2 separate regions of the Homo sapiens genome follow, and region 1 is linked to region 2. Evidence: fine-mapped expression QTL. A gene starts in region 2. The other region holds a variant in brackets. All regions are shown on one strand. Distances are between the middles of the regions.

Region 1 (8,332 bases), 370 kb after region 2:
TCAGACCCATGGACTTGCCCACGGCCTCCAGTATTAACCCTGCGCCCTTGGGTGCTGAGCAGAACATTGCGGCCTCCCAATGCGCAGTGGGGGAAAACGTGCCCTGCTGCTTGGAGCCAGGCGCGGCTCCCCCCGGACCCCCCTGGGCACCCAGCAACACCTCCGAGAATTGTACCTCTGGGAGGAGACTAGAAGGCACTGACCCGGGAACCTTCTCAGAGAGAGGACCTCCTCTTGAACCCAGGAGCCAAACAGTGACCGTGGACTTCTGCCAGGAAATGACTGATAAGTGTACAACTGACGAACAGCCCAGGAAAGATTATACCTAGTGACTCGGCTCTGCCTCCCAGTCCGCACACCTCTCCCATCCAGGCGTTCTTCAGTCAGCCTGTGGCACTGTTCATCTGCTGTCCCGAAGAAACCGAGAACACATTTGGTGCACACTACAGCGGTCTTAGCAGCAATACTGTTCCGAAGTATCCTCTCCTCTTCTCGAGCAGGAGTGATAGTTACCTTCACAATGGTGCTACCCCTTGCCCAGGCAAGGAAAGACAGCAGTGATGACACTGTCTGTCTGTGGCTCAATTTCAGTCTTCACAGGGATAGACTACAACACCTCTAGGCCCCAACCACGGATTTTTTTTCTCAGTGGCCCATGTCACAAACCCTATCTCAGGAATTTCTTCTGAATGTTCAATTTTTTTCATTGAAGACAGCTTCTATACACATCAAAGTTTTATAGCTAGACTGTACATATTATATATAATATATATATAAAATATATATATATATATATATATATCCATATGCAAAAGTCCTGCATGCCTCAACTTTCTCATCCTAAAACTGGAAACTTATTTCTCATTTAGAAACAGGTTCCAACATTCCTCTTCTTTTGTCTCTGATGCTAGAACTAGTTTGGTAACTGTTAACATGGTCATTTTTCTTGCTTCACAGTTCAATTTTCAATTCGTACTTATTTATGGACAAAATTCAGTGTTGGAAGCTTTTTCCCAAGGTTTTATTTCAGATTTCTTTTTCGTTTGGTTTGGTTTTGGCACCTCCAAGTGGTGTCATTTGAGCATTGTAGGTTTGTTTTTTGTTTGTTTGGGGGGTTTTGTTTGTTTTTGTTTTTGTTTTTGTTTTCCTTGCAGATACTGTACAGTAATGGTCAACTTTGCCACTTGCACTGAGTTTTGGGTCAAACCTATTTTCTTAAATGAAGTTGTAACTTCGGTATAACTCAAGTATACTGTATATTCTTTGCTTTTAGTTAAAAAAGTAAAACATTTTAGCTAATTAAAAAGCACTCAGGTGATAATTATGTAGGAAAAACAATCTTGCCAAATAATGAATTCATCCTAGGATGTGTAGACAATAATCTGCTTGAATATTTTTATATTTCACCTCCTCCCCACCTTTCCCTAAGCAAAGTTTAAACGCAGATAGAGAGTTCAGAGTTGATGCTGGATGTTCAGATTCCTAAGTGGGGAGAGAGTTTGGACATCTCACTCAAAAGTACATCAGAAAAACAGGAATCCGTGATTTTATACCAGAACTCAGCAGGCATTGGCTCCTAGAAATCAAGTTAGAAAGTTTTCACCCAGGGAGTAAGTCCCATTCATTTCAACACGTCCTGAGGCCTCGGCTTGCTCTTGGAAGTGTTGTGCAGTAGGACCTGCTCCCCTGAAGGACGGGGCCAACCAGCCACTGGCTTTCCTGCCCAGGCTTGGCCTCCCAGGACATCTGGCCTGAGGGGATTTGAATCACAGCCCCGAAGGTCCTGCCTTCACCCCATTGGGAGAGAGCAGGGCATCCTGGCATCTGCGATCCATCCCTGACACAGGCTGACACATTCTTTCTCCTTTCCTTCTCCAAAGGCTTGGAGTTTTCTTCTGAGGTTTTTCTGCCAGTGTCTTGTCTGAAGGCAGACTTCATTCTGAGGCTTTGGACAAGCTATCACCGGGAACCCTCCCTGTCCCCTTCCCGAATCACACACATACCCTACCCTCACCTGATGATAATTTTCTCTTCTTGCTGCAAAACTGGTTGGCTTGCAACCCAGAGAGAGCAGCTTCCCTTGGCTCTGGGGCCGTGTTGGCCCCAGCCACGTTTACAGGAAGGTGTGCCCCAGAGGAGGAGGAATCAGCTCCCTCGCTCCAGTGGCCTTGGGTCCGGGTCTCACTGAGCAGCCCGAGGGCCACTCCAGCCCGGCTGGGGAAGAGAGTCCTGAACGGTTTGATGTGGGGATGGGGTGGTGGGCAGTGGGGAATAGATGGTTGACTTTGTTTCTTTATTTGTGCCATTGTTTGGACAATATTAAAGCTGCATGTAAAAGGGGAAATTAGTATATGATGTAGGCTAAAAGTGAAATCATAGTAACATATGTTTTAGTATTATTAACTTTTTTCTGTACAAATATTAGCACTAAATGTTTAAATATGTATGAATGCCAGAAATTTGTCAGTTCATGCAGTAGGATAAAAAAAAAAAAAAAAAAAAAAAAAAGGCTTTTCTTTTTAAACAGTTCCACTTTTAAAACCTGCCTCTGGGTTTTTGTTTTTTCTTGTTTGTGTGTGTGTGTGTGTGTGTGTGTGTGTGTGTGTGTGTGTGTGTGTGTGTCTGAAACAGATCTTGATAAAGCTCTGTGTTGGAGCTGCTGGTTTTTGTTATGGTTGTTGGAATTTCTTGGCCTACTAGGACAGTTCTGTGCTTCACCATGAGGTTTGCCTTTGTGGAAAACTGGTGACAGTGAGAATATAAACTCAATGTGAATCACGTGATACTTCGCAGGCGTGTGTTACAGTGGAGTCAGCTGACAGTATTTTGCTTTTTAACTCTATTGTTGCCTTTCCAAGTGACCTCTCCTCTTCTTTTAAAAAAAGAACACTTTCTGCTCATATCATAACCAGGTCCAACCCAGCTTCTTGGCATGAGGTTTACCCTGGTAACAACTCATGTGCAACTGGTAGTCTTGACCACATTCCATCCATTTCCTCAGGTTTCTGTGGTTCAGTAGCCCAGACCTGTTTGGCAGCCATTTCTAGCAGGGGCGGGGCCTCTTTATTTCTCTCCACCCTAACTCAGACCTCACCTTCCTCCCACCCACCCCTGCCTTGCTTTTCTTCCTCTTCCCCCAACCTAACTTCTGCCATGGGAACTGGTTAAAAACACTGCTCTAAAAACCATCTTCCAATTTCATAGAGATTTCTCACAAGTTATTTCATTCATAATCCACCATGAACAGTGACTAGCTTCGTGCAGTTGTTCATGTGATGTGTGTGTGTCTTTTCCTATTCAGAACTATGTGCTTGTCAAAATTATTTCTGGGTTGATTCAAAGGGAGGACTTGCTGGGGACCAGAATCCAAACGGCCTCAAGTGGAATTTTAAAACCTAGCCTGTCTCTTTTCCCTGGGATCCCTCTGTCAACCCCACGCCTTTTAGGAAAAAGAAAAGTGAGTGAACAGCAAGGAAGAGTGTTTGCACAGTACAGTAACATTTGGTTGTTCTTAAGGCTCTTTTCTTACAAAAATAAGAGACCCTCCAACCACGGGCTGTTTAGGAGGATGCCTGCTTGGGTCTCCAAATGGCTGGGGTAGGAATGGTTGTTGGGGCAGAGCCAGTGGAGGTGA[GTGAC/C]CCTGAGACTAATGAACATCCCACCTAAATCCAGTCCTCCCCTTGGATCTGCCTTTGTCCTGCTTGTGTATCCAGGCAACCTCTTTTCAAGTTGGTCAGGCTTTGGACAGGTGAGTGATTTGCTGTATGTGTTTGTTTCTCTGCGTTACCTGGGGGTGCCTTGATTAAAATCGAACTTTATTACATACTGATTCTGGAACAAAACAGTTAGAAAAACTTTAAAAAAAAAAAAACCGACAAAGTTACGAGGCCATCCTGCTATTTATCTTCTGAGTTCCCAGCAATGACTCAGGCATCAGAGATGATGCTGCAGTGGAAAACCTGACTCTGTGTGTCTGCAACTGAATGTTGTGCGAGTAATTTATTAACTGTCTTTCTAAAGGTTTGCTGCTTTTAAGATGCACTATAATTCGGGATGTAATCCTTACATTGCTTTTCCAAGGAAGGGAACAAAAGTCTAGTGATTAGTATGCCAACTGCCACTACTCCTTCAAAAGGAGCCAGGACCAGCGACAAGACTCATGAGAGGACTGGCTAAAGTGAAGTGTGCACAGTGTGAAGTTTAATGCTGTTGTCAAGAGGCCTAAACCCACATTTTCTCTTTTAATATTTTATGATTGCCATCAAAGAAGAAGAAAAAGAAGGAACAGACAAAGGTTTGAAAATGATAAGCCTGTTAAGACACCAAAAACTCCTGTCCCGTGAAGCTGCTTGACATCCTGTGGAGTAGCATAATCCTCTCAAAATGAGGAAGAGCTGCCTGCAAAGCTTTCTCAAGTCCCTATTTGGCTACCTACTTCTCTACATTATGCCCCATTTAAACTAGGAGCTGTCTTAGAAATGACTTCAAACTGCTTCACTATTGCTTACAGTTTAGGAGGAGTCTCAGATCCAGAAGGAGCAAGAATCAAGTTTGGTCCTCAAATGACTGTAAATAGACTAAAGAACAAGGTGTTTTTTGTTTTTGTTTTTGTTTTCTAAGAATAAAGCTGTTCGTTGTATCATGAGTTAGTGTTTCTTCCCCAAACTGAAGACTGTGTTGGAAGTGCAATTTCTGGTGAGTCAGTCCACAATACAATGCCCTGTGTGGAGTTGGTATTCATACAGGAAATCTGTGTGCACGAGGCATTGTGTGTTGAAAGTGTATGTTTATAGTACTGCCTGAGCCATCTCATGACCCCAGCGTCCAAAACCGATGCTGTAGAACAGAACATATCTGTACACAAATAGTGTGTGCAAATAGCATTTGTACATAGAAAAGTCTCATTGTGGCAGATTGAGCATAAATTATTCAACTGACGGTGCAAAAACATTACTTGCAAAGAAAAGTTTATAGTATTTTCCTACACTCCACCCTGGGAGATGATATTTCTATCAAATGAATATCAGTGCATTTTAAATGTAATATGAAAACGATGCTGCCATTTTGTGAAGAATACCCACTTGGTTGCAGAGGCCAACTTTCATAGCTTTGATTTAATGTTGTGACACGGTGTATGCATTTTGCTGTCAAGCAATGGATAAACAGCTCTGACTTTCATTCTCATTCCAGTTTATTGACCTCAGATAAAACACTGGCCCTTCTTAGAAGCAGAAGTGTGCACCAAGACCATTCATTTCAGGTAGACTCACATTCAGTGCCAAGTGCTCCCATGGGAATAATCAGACGCATATGTTGCGAAAGAGTGAAGGGACTTGGACAAAGAGGGGTTTTCCTACAGATGGATGCTCAGTCTTCTACCAAAACATGTTTGGAGGCAGAACTATGACCTCCCCTTAAGTCCTAACAATGTATTTTGTGTGTGCAAATCCTGGGATGCCCGTTTCACGCTCTGACATAAAGACATGGCACCTCTAGTGAGTGATCAGGAAGATTCCATATGCATTTGGGAGCTTCAGGTGCTTGTTAGACACAGTGAGCCATTCAAGGCAAGCACCACCTTTGCTAGTGAGGCCAAGAGAGCCTGTGACAATTTGACAATTTGTTCCAGAACCAGTCTGATGCAAGTGCACCTCTAATATATGCCTTACAAACTCCAGAGGCCATATTCAAAACAGGGTCTTCTCAGTGTATGCAAGGGGCTGCAGCCCCTCTTCTCTTCCTCCCCAGGTTGAACAATACGGACAGTTTTCACACATATCTACCTGTATAACCCTCTGTACCTCTCATAACTGGTCAACGACTGTAACAGGTTACATCAGGTGTTTTTCTACATACTTTTTACACAGATTCTATGCGATTAATGTAATTTAATTCAATGCATCATTTTATTGTACTAGTTCTTAGGCTTGTCCTTATTTTTTTCTAAGTGATTGTGGTTTTTCTCGTGGTTTTTATTGTAAAAAATGAAAGGCTGTTGATGCTTATTCTCTGTAACTAAGAATTTTTACCTTTTGGGGGAAAAAAGCATTGCTATGAACTAATGAATTGAAACTTCATTTACTCATTGTAAATACACTATTGTGCAAAAAAAGTTTTCACTCAATTGAATTGCTAGTGTTAACTGAATTTTGTCTAGACACCATTTCTGTTGATGAAATAAAGACATATCATTATGCATTGTAAACTGATTTTCTCTGCCTCTGATCCCTATGTTCCAAATTACAGAGTGAGAAACCTCAGGAAATCTTTTTTCCTAGAGGCCATTTCTCTTCCTCTAGTTTGGACCCTTACTTGCTACCTGATTAATCTGATTAGGAATCTTTAAAATTGGATAATATTAATGTGATTCCTAAACTCTGAATTTTAAAAATCCCTAGTGCCTGTGAGAGTAGATAAAAGGCTTTAAACCCAATTTCTCGGTTTTGATATTGTGCTATCGCTATGCAGAATGTTACCACGGGAGAAAACTGGGTGATGGGTATCATTTCTTGCAACTGCATGTGAATCTGCAATTATATCCAAAATAGGCTGAATTTTTTAAAAACTAAATGAAAGTAAATGAGAAAGAACATTAAGCCAACACCAAGATGCAGTGAGTTGCAAGGAAAGATGTTTAGAATTGTGGTTGAGGAATCCATACAGTCATGCATTGGTTAGTGAAGGGGGTACGTTGTGAGAAATGCATCCTTACGCAATTTCCTATTGTGAGAACATCAGGGTGTGCCACACCAACCTAGATGAGAAAGCCTATGACACACCTAGACTAGATGTTCCTAGATTGCAAACTTGTGCAGCATGTAACTGTACTGGATATGGTAGGCAATTGTAACACCAGGGTAAGTAGTTGTGTATCTTAACATAGAAAAGTTGCAGTAAAAATAGGGTTTACAATCTTATGGAACCGCTGTCATATATTCGTCCCATCATTGACCAAAACATGGTTATGCCATGCATGACTGTACAGTTTAAAAGTTGTATTCTAAAAGTGTATTTGATAGTTATGTCTTCGATTTTGATGTAAAGAGAAAACAAGATATCAAATGGTGGGCAGGTCGAGTGACCATGAGCGAACACTGGACTGGAGCTCGGAGGTGAGAGAAAGCCACTAGAGCAGAGCAGGGGGGTCTGAGCTGTCAGCGAGGCTGTAACCAGTGCATGCGCATGGTATCCGGGCAGGGCAGGGCTGTGCTGCCGAGATTCACGCTTCAAGGAGTGCATGCGACCGCCAGATGGGAAAACGGAAATTAAAAACTGCCAAGTTCTGCTCCCTCGGGCGAGTCTCCATGGGCACCTATGGAGTCAAGGAAGGCTTCCTGAGAGCAGGTCATGGGTTTTGCAAATGTGTGCTGCTGTGACAACGTCGCAGTCATAACATTTTCGGTACAAGAGGCGGATTACCTACGCCTGAAGATGTGAAGTTAATCCACTCTGAGAAAAACAGGTGGGTCAGAGTCCCAAAATTTTCTGTGGGAAAACCTGGTAATTTAGAACTGATGGTCATGTGCACCTTCAACCCTGACATCTGCTCTTGTGATACAAATAATGGTCATGCATTGAAGGAAAATAAACCTCACCAGCTGTTGCGTCCTGCAAAACAGGCGTCCCCGACCCCTGGGCCGCAGACTGGTTCCGGTCCATGACCTGTTAGGAACAGGCCGCACAGCAAGAGGTGAGCAGCTGGGGAGTGAACATTACTGCCTGAGCTCCACCTCCTGCCCCATCAGCGGTGGCACTGGATTCCCATAGGAGCGCGAACCCTACTGTGAACGGTGCATGTGCGGGATCTGGGTTGCAGCTCCTTATGAGACTCTAATGCCTGATGATCTGAGGTGGAACGGTGTCATCCCGAAAACATCCCCCCACCCCCGCTGCCTCTGGTCCGTGGAAAATTTGTCTTCCACGATACCAGTCCCTGGTGCCAAAAAGGTTGGGAATCGCGGCTACAAAAGAGCTTTTAAGCACTGTCCAGCCCCAGGTGGACAGCAGCCATTTTCTTTCCTACTTTACATGTGCTTCTTATGGGAAATTTGTATCTGCCTCTGGGGCAGTGAGGACAGGTTCCTTCTACACCAGGCCCTGCCAGCAGTTTTGTTGTATGTATTTGGAAATAACTGAGCTGTTCTTTGAAATCATTTTAGAGTCTTTCACTCTTCTCCAACCCACCACCTCACCCAACTCTGCCCCACCACTTGGGATGCATTAGCAAGATTGTACTTAATGTTTAACAGCAGCTGGTGAAGGTGCCGTGAGCAGAAATGGGTTTCCAATTCTCCTCACTGAGCACCTATGCCTTCGTGGTACAAGTGAACAC
Region 2 (8,332 bases):
TGACATCACAACCTCTCACTCTTTCCCAACACTGCAAGATATGAATGCTATAGTCAGATGAAAGTGTAACCTCAAGGGGTCCTTCTGCATTAAAAGTCCAGCCACCTTCCCTCCTCTCTGACTCCTTCCTGGCCTTGAGGTTCAACTGAAATTCCACCTTCTCAGTGAAACCTTTTCTGGCTACTTTAACCTTCATAATTTGTTTTTCCTCTTAACATCTACAATACTTAAGTTCTTGTTAGAATTTAATTATGCATATTTTGAATTTTACAACATTTATTGGCTACCTTTATTACAGAAGTAATATATTTATATTACAGAAAATTTTTTTAAAAAGCAAAAGTAAAACCACTTATAGGCTCTTTATTTCAAGAGAACCACTTGAACACTGTGCATATAGCCTTCCAGATTTTTCCTATGCATGCACTGGCAATTTTTTTTCACAAATAGGATCCTATTGTAAATAGTTATACAAATTATTGTTAAACTATACTAACAAAATATTAATATATCAATATACATAAATTTTCATCACTAATTTTTTTCATTATTATTATTATTTTTGGTAGAGATGGGGTTTCACTATGTTGTCCAGGCTGGTCTCAAACTCCTGAGCTCAAGAAATTTGCCTGCTTCAGCCTCTCAAAGTGCTGGGATTATAGGCATGAGCCACCGTGCCCAGCCACCAATATTATTTTTGATGGATCCATGATATTCATATTTTATATATGAACCACCATTTATTTAGCCAATCATTTCCTGTAAGGCATTTGGATTTTTCCATTTTCTTTTTGCTATCATACAAAAAAGATCTGTACATTCTTAATTTTTTCATTAGTATAAATTATAACACATACAATTTCTATATAATTTTAAATATTAATATATAAAAGTAATAAAATCAAATACAAAATTACATTTTTCAATTGTTTCATGTATATTAGTTTTGACTCCTTATGTAGATTTAAGTTCCTTAAGGATACAGTCCAATGTTTCTTAATTTTTCACCTCAACATGTAACAGATGCTCAGTAGTGTATGTTGAAAAATTAGTTTATTTCATATACCATATTTTACTAGTTTATTTCATATAAGCTTTTAGATAATAGTGGCATCAATTCTTTACTATAGAAGAAGATCACTATAGATAGTAATATAAGAACATCACTTTCTTTTAGGGACTATTTCCAAAGTCCTTCTTAGGAACTGAGGCAATCTTTGAGGAGATGAAGATGGGACAGATAAGAGATATACAGTTTGAAGGAAAAAGGCTGCCAGCCAAATTTAACAATAGCTAGAAGCAAAATTTTTGCTTTTCTGGTTTGGATTGCCCTGATCATTTTTCAAAACTTGTGTGAGATTTTGTACAATGAGAAATCTCTTCTTGGCAGTGGTGTGTCCAGAAAGCCCCCAGGAGTGGGCCCCCAAGGTCCTCTGTGCCGTCCAGCAATTCTGCCACATCCCTGGCACTGGTTCACATCTTTTCTCTATCCCCTAAATCTATCCTTCCCTCCTCCACTATCAGTGAACGGTCTATCTTCTTACTCCACTAAGAAAACAGAATTCCTCAGACAACGGCTTCCCATACTTCCTACCATGATATTCCAGCCTCCCTGCACTTCCCCACCTGTGCTGCCCTTCCTTCTGTTGGTTGGGATGAACTGGCCCCTTTCTCTCTCAAGGAAGCTTCTCAGCTTCCTTGTGGGGATCTTTTTTTCTTCATCTTGCTGACCTCTAAATGTCGGAGTGCCCCAGGTCTTAAACCTTAGACTTCTTCTCTTTGCTCCTCTTCTCCACCCATGTTTCCAGTTGCTGTGTTGATGACACACAGATTTCTATCTCTAGTCTGGACTTCTCCCCTAAATTCTAGATTCCCATGTCTGATTACCTGCTCACCTTTTCCACTTAGATGTCTGATAGACATCTGAAATGTACTATATCCAAAACCAAATGTTTCAGCATTTCCCCCATACCTGCTCCGCCTGGATAAATGAACTCTCCATTAATAAGCTGTTCAGTCCAAAATTCAGAATTTCCTTTGACTCTTCTCTCATATCCTACAATGGAATCATCAACAAATCTTGTCCGGTTTATGCTGAAAATATATCTGGATTCCATTTATGGCTGTCATTCTAGCATTCTATTAATAGTTTAAATCACCATCACCTCTCTAATGACTTATCTCAATAGCCTCCTACTTGGTCTCTCTGCTTCCATTCCTGTACTTCCCGTGACCCAGCAGAGTGATCCTTTAGGAGTTGAGGCCAGGACATGTTCCTTGTCTGCAGAAACCCCTACAGCATCCCACTCCATTCACTTTTGTCAGATTTCATTGGATGTTAAATTTGCCCTGCCATGCCTTATTCAAGGTACCACATTTGAAATTCTGTCTACTGTTCTGCCTAAGAAAAAATACAATATTTTCTCAACATCATCAAATCCTGTACAGGGTGCTGGAGAGCAAGAAAATCAAAGGCTCAAGAACTGCCCATGTCTTTAGTCCGTCTTCCTTTCCTCATCTGTTTCCTGTATATTTTAATTTTTCCTGTTTTATTTTCTACAATCAAGAAGATTTCTATTATAGAAATAAAGTTTATTTGTTTCAATGCCATGATACAGATTTATTGTCCCTGGAAATATCATGCTTAGAAATGAATCACAGACAAAGCCCATGCTCTGGATCAACACACATGTGTAATTATGTAGGAAAAAAATGTATATCAGGAAAGGTTGAATGCTCCAGGCATGAGAAATAAATTGACCTCCACTCAACTTACTGCCATGATTATACAGAGGGAAGGACCTGGATCTGTTTCACATCATAAACGCCTAAATTGCCAGAGCAGCACAAGCCCAGGAGTGGCCATGCAAACTCATGATGGAGGTGCTAAGGCTGTCCACAGCCCAACCTCTGCAGCAGTACTGTTAAATGAGTGTCTAGTACTTGACTTACCATTTTAATTTCACATAATTCTGAATGTATTTTTCGGCTTGAATTCAAATAACCCACTTCTAACTACCGAAAATAAAGTAGAAAAATGAACTCACTACCAGACTTCAAAGCTTATCCAAAGCAAAGATTTCGTCTTACAGCCAGAGGTGCATGATTGCAGAGCTGGATGTAACCTGAGAGGCTAACTACTCCTAATTCAGCCTCCTTGAATGACTGGATGATGCAACCTATCACAGGTGTTTTAGGTTTTTTCATCTCTATTTAATGTCCCACCTCATGCTTGAAAATCTCAAAGTGAAAAAGCTCCAGTCTGAGTCTTTGGGCAAGCAGACTAACTGAAATGACCTGTTAGCCTTTGTTGTATCCATCTGACAAGATCAGCTTGTAGAATCCAGAATGGAGGTGGGAGATCAGCTGGCAGCCTCATTTCCCTCCTCAACCACCCCTACGCTGATGTGCCCAACTCCACTCACAGCTGGGCAGCCACCGCTTGCTTGAAAATAAATGAATCTACACCACTCTCATACGGATGCTCTCAAGCATCCCTTGTTGTGAGAAAAACATTTATTGCTGCTACTAAAATGCGTAAAGTTATCTCACAAACACATACTTACAAGAATGAGGAATGAGAAACAGAACCATCCATAAAACTATAAGAAACGGCCTGGCCAGGGCAGACCAGGAATTAGTACTCTGTCCTTGCCAGGGGTCAGGCAGGGACCTCAGAAGCAGGGTGTTTTGTCCTAGGGGGCACCAGACCAGAGGTCAGGAGACTGAGGGCTACTCCTAGCTCTAGGACTTTTCCTTATCTGAAGGCCGGGTCGGTTAGCAGAGAAAATCTCACAGTCCCGTGCCAGACCTCCACGCAGGGACTCTGCAGTGCTGTTAGAAAAATTAGCTCAGCACCTTCAGCTTGCTTTCAGCCATCACTTAGCTTTCCACACAGACATTCCAAATGGGGCCTTTCAAAACTCTGCCCTCAAATGAAGGTAGTTCAGAGCAACACTTTAGATGATATCACAAGACTCCCAGGACGCTTCACTGCTTCCTCAGCATACGCCAGTGCCCGTTTTACAGGGGGGATTTATGATCCTTCTCTCAGTAGAGCGAGCCAAACTTTTATAATATTCATTAAAAATCAGCACCACGTGTAATAATATGGAATACTGCCTGTACACAAGAGGGCCAAGTTATAGGTGTTTAGGGAAACGTGGCAGAATTTTCTGGCCTTGGCAAGAGGTAAAGTTGCAGGCACCAGCACAACACTAACACAACCTTATTTTATTGCAAATGTACATTCAGCCTAAATCCTAATTACCTTCTGTAAAATCCTAACCACCACCAAGCTTTCTTCTGACAGGGCACTCACACGACGGCCTTTAAGGGCAGCAACAACATCCTAAGAGCCGCAGAAAGGAAAGGCAGGGGAGAGTGGCTGGAAGGCAGTAGGAGCTGGGGCTGAAGCCCGGGAGGTTGGCTTTTAATGTCCTCCTGAAATTGACCACTCTCTTTCCAAAAACACTGGCTTGGGGGCTTAAAGGTTCGCTCAGTAGGGCAGGCGGAGGGCCTCCTGAAAAGGATTGAGAAGTCAACATTCAAAAGGCTGCTTTTACTCGCCCGGTCCCCACCCAAAAGGGAGTCCGGTCAGCTTTGTGGGGGCCAGTGGAGCATCTTTTCTTGCCCTTCCGGGAAAACGCTAGCTAACCCTGGGATCCCCGGTCCCGACGTCTGCTCTCCTTCCCCAGGTGCAGCACCTAGGGCTCTGGCCCCCTCCCCACGTGCCACACCAGCCCTCACCACTACTCTCACCCTGCTATGCCCCCAACCCTCGTCTTTCGTGGCCGGGAAGGCCAGGCCGAGCGGGGCGGTCAGCCGGGCCGGGAGGAGGGGGCTCTCCGGGCCGCGCGGCCGCACAAAGCGGGGAGATCTGCTGCTGCGGCGGCATGAGGCGCGCCCCCTCCCGCGAGCCAGCGGAGCGCGCGCGCCCGCCCCCGTCCCCCGCCCCCCGCCCCAGCCCCCGGAGCGCCATTCGCGGAGCGGCTTACGCTAGTCGCCGGGCGTACCGCGCCCCAGCGGCCGGGGAGGTGCGCTGCCCGGCTCCCGTAAAGTTATTGTGAATGGGGAGCGGGTGACGTCAGCGCCGAATGTCAACAATGTAGCGATTGAGAGTGTGGGCGTTCCGGGGAGAGCGCAAGCCGCGCGGCGCGGAGCAAACAGCGCCGAGCCGCCGCCGCCTCAGCAGCAGCAGCAGCAGCAGCAGCGGCAGCAGCGGCCGTGCACGCCCGGGCTGCGGTCGCACAGCGCTAACGTGAGCGGCCGCCGCCCTCGCCACCCCGCCTGCCCACTCCCGCCGCCGCCCCGCTCTCGCTTTCCCCCCGGCCTCCCCTCGCCCCTTCCCCTCCCCCTTCCCGGCGCACTCGGGGGGCTGGGAACGAGCTGCCATGTGATGCGCGTCCCCTCCGCGAGCTTTCGGTGACCCACGAACTGCCCACCTCGCCGGCTGCCGGGAGGGGGCTGCGAGCCGGGAAGACGCGGGGAAGAGGAGGCGGAAAAGGACGCAAAGTTCTCCGGCGAGGTGAGTCCCGGGCCCCGGGCCCCGGGCCCCGCCGCTGGGCGGGGTGGCGGGGCAAGTTTGCGGGGGGAGCGGGCGCGCGGGGCGGGCGGGGAGGCGTGGGGAAACGGCGCGGGAAGGGAGCCCCGGCCGCCGGGCGCGCAGCCGCCCTCCCCGCGCCCTGCCCGCTTTTATGGCATTTTCTAGGAACGGGAAGGGGGTGGGAGCCGAGCCGGCGGCCGCGCCGCGCCGAATGTGTGCTCTCCCTCCCGGCTGTTTACGGCGGCCGAGGCGCATTGTATTTTGCTGGCGTCGAAGGGTGTTTTGGAACAGCAGAGGGAGGAGGAGCAGAGAGTAATAAGTCAGGCATGGGGAGGGCGGGCTGCAGGAGGCGCGCGTCCGCGCGAGCCGCAGCAGCTGTCAGACCCGCGGCCCTGCCCCCGGCCCGGCGAGGCCCGGGTGTCCCGGCCCCCAGCCTGCGATCCCAGCTCCAGGCCGGGCGGCCTCCTCCTTAACCCTCGGCGTGCGCATCCCGGGCTGCTCCGCGAGGACCTTGGCCGCGGCGCCTTTGCGCTCAGCTGTCAGCCGCCGCCGGGTGGCCCGGACCACCGCGACCGGCGGGGAATCAAAGCCCAAGTTTAGGGTCGCAGGAAGAGGCGAGCTGGGGGCCTCGCGGCGCAGACCTGGATCGAATCTCTCCTAGCGAAAGATCGGGTTGTCGGAAAGCGTCCCGCGTAGCTAAGACCTAAGGGCGCCAGGCTTCTGAGAGGGAAACCTTGCACCTCCTCTCCCACAGATCCTCCATGAAGTCAAGGTGCAACACACACACACACACACACACACACACACCCTACACTCCAGTCTCCAAGCCCCAGAAGCTTCACCCAGGAGACTGGTTTATGAAGGGGACACTGCCCTCCCCGTCCCCGCGTCGAGGCGCTCCGTGGCCCCGCTGTGCTTCGCTCACCCGGCGGGTGTTCGGGAGCCCGGCGCCGCTGGAGACGGCGGCGGGCGGCGCTCACGGGCTACCCTAGGTGCCCACGAGGGGAGAGACTGGAGCGAGCATCTCGGCGACCTCGGTCTGGCCAAGCATTTGCAGGAACTCGGACCGTGAGGGGAAGCGTGCAGGGCCGGGAGTGAGTGTGTGAAGGGGTGGCACACTCCTGGCTTCTGGGGTCGCGGGCGCATGGGGCATCCCCAGCACTCTCCCGCGCGTAGGCGAGTTTGGTAACTTGAGGGAAGTTCCGGCGCGGCCGCTGCCGGGGTGGTTTGTCTGTGGCCCGATGAGGCGCGCCTCGCAGCCTGCTCTCCCGGTCACCGCCGTCGCCGTGACCTGTGGCCTCCAGGAAACGAGAGGGACCGGGGCGCCCCACCCGCGAGACGGACCCGCAGTCTCCCGGCGGGCCCGCGGGCGGCGAGACGCGGCGTTCCTGGTTTTCACCTTCGCTGTCTAGTGCTGCAGTCTCTCACTCTCTGTAAATTTCATCTGTTGAGTGTATTTAACTAAAAAGGGTAATTACTTTAGATAAAAATCCTTTCCTGCCTAGTGGGAACCTTGGCGGAGATGATGCCTAATGAGATATTTTGCTTTTGTCTGTTTAGAGTAAAATTAGAGATGTTAACGCTGATAACGGTTTTCTCAGATCATTAAAATGTAACATGTAGGAAAGGCACGTCTTGCTGCAAAGGCTCGGGCTGACATGAAAGAAGCTGAGCGTGAAAGGCTGCCCCTCCTTTGGCGGAGAGGGCTATTTTGGTAAGGCAGCGGGCGTCTTGCTTAAAATGTGAGATCGCCCCACCCTGGTTCTCGGGCACCTCCCGAGTAAACGGCGTTTTTCATTCTTGCAGGTAATAATAAACGTGAGTCAAAATGACATCTTGTTAGAATTAGTCTTTAGTCTGTAAGAGAGATTGCCAAATTACAGTGTTGCGTTCAAACTGCTCCACTGAAAGGTCTGTCAGCATTTCCATTATAAATTCAGTTTTTCTGGAGTTTATAATTTCACCACAAAACTTTGAGTGGCTGAAATGTTTTCCCTTCTAGTATTCTGGTTTTTGAAAGAAATTTATTGATTGCCCATTTCCAACGTTTTTTTTACTCTCGAAACCTGAATATCATTGAAATAGAGCGAAGTCCCAGAAATGGAACACACAACCATGGAATAAAGTATTTTTGTTAGAACATAACTTTATTGGTGCAGAGCCGTATTTTCGTTTTGCATTGCAGGAGGCTTCAGGTTTGCCATTTGGTAATCATGAATGTGTTGAGTAAATTCTTCTGCTGTCTGTCTATTCTGCAGGTGGACTGAAATGTCAGTTGGTAGTGTGTTTGCCAGGATTACATGGAGACACACACTTCTCAGTTAAGTGTGTGTCTGAACTCATAGCTAAATTGTGAACACTCCTGTTAGTTACTTTTTTGGTTCTTTGTATGTTGCATGTCAGGATCTGCTATGAAGAAGAAGGGGTGAGGTGAAAGAGAGGGAGGGGATCAGGATTCACTTTCTGTATTACCAGTGCCTGGGAGAAAGCCATTTATTATTTTCCTATTGAATTATGCCCTTTGACTTAGTATCTTCAGGCAATTCTTTTCCAGTAGCTCACCTCTGGCTGCTGTGTAAGGGGCTTAATTATTTGCAAACTGCCTTGAAATCCCTGGATGAAAGGCACTGAATAAGTGCACAGTATTGTTATTCAGATATGGAATTTAATGATCCATTATAGTTCATCAGGAAAATGCACTTTGCAGTGATGGTAGGAAATGTTTCCACCTGATAGAGGGTAATAATAACTGCTTAAAAGTAGATTCAGATTACAGATGAGACAATT

What was found.
Region 1: its variant is fine-mapped to the expression of BACH2 in whole blood (INTERVAL, PIP above 0.99).

Annotation. Positions count from the first base shown.
Region 1 is chr6:89,924,405-89,932,736 of GRCh38, reverse strand. BACH2 (BACH transcriptional regulator 2) reads left to right here. Exons shown (of 9, transcript NM_021813.4): 9 at 1-6,209. The coding sequence ends at 329. Among named protein-coding and RNA genes, the nearest start is that of GJA10, 34 kb to the right of the region's middle. RefSeq lists a silencer at 4,633-4,927. The variant GTGAC/C (reference allele first, on the strand shown) is at 3,635.
Region 2 is chr6:90,293,675-90,302,006 of GRCh38, reverse strand. BACH2 (BACH transcriptional regulator 2) reads left to right here and starts at 5,164. Exons shown (of 9, transcript NM_021813.4): 1 at 5,164-5,527. LOC124901361 (a long non-coding RNA gene) reads left to right here and starts at 6,801. Exons shown (of 2, transcript XR_007059676.1): 1 at 6,801-8,332. LOC105377891 (a long non-coding RNA gene) reads right to left here and starts at 4,768. Exons shown (of 7, transcript XR_942778.4): 1 at 4,271-4,768. RefSeq lists enhancers at 2,950-3,451, 6,769-6,858 and silencers at 5,251-5,300, 5,926-5,985.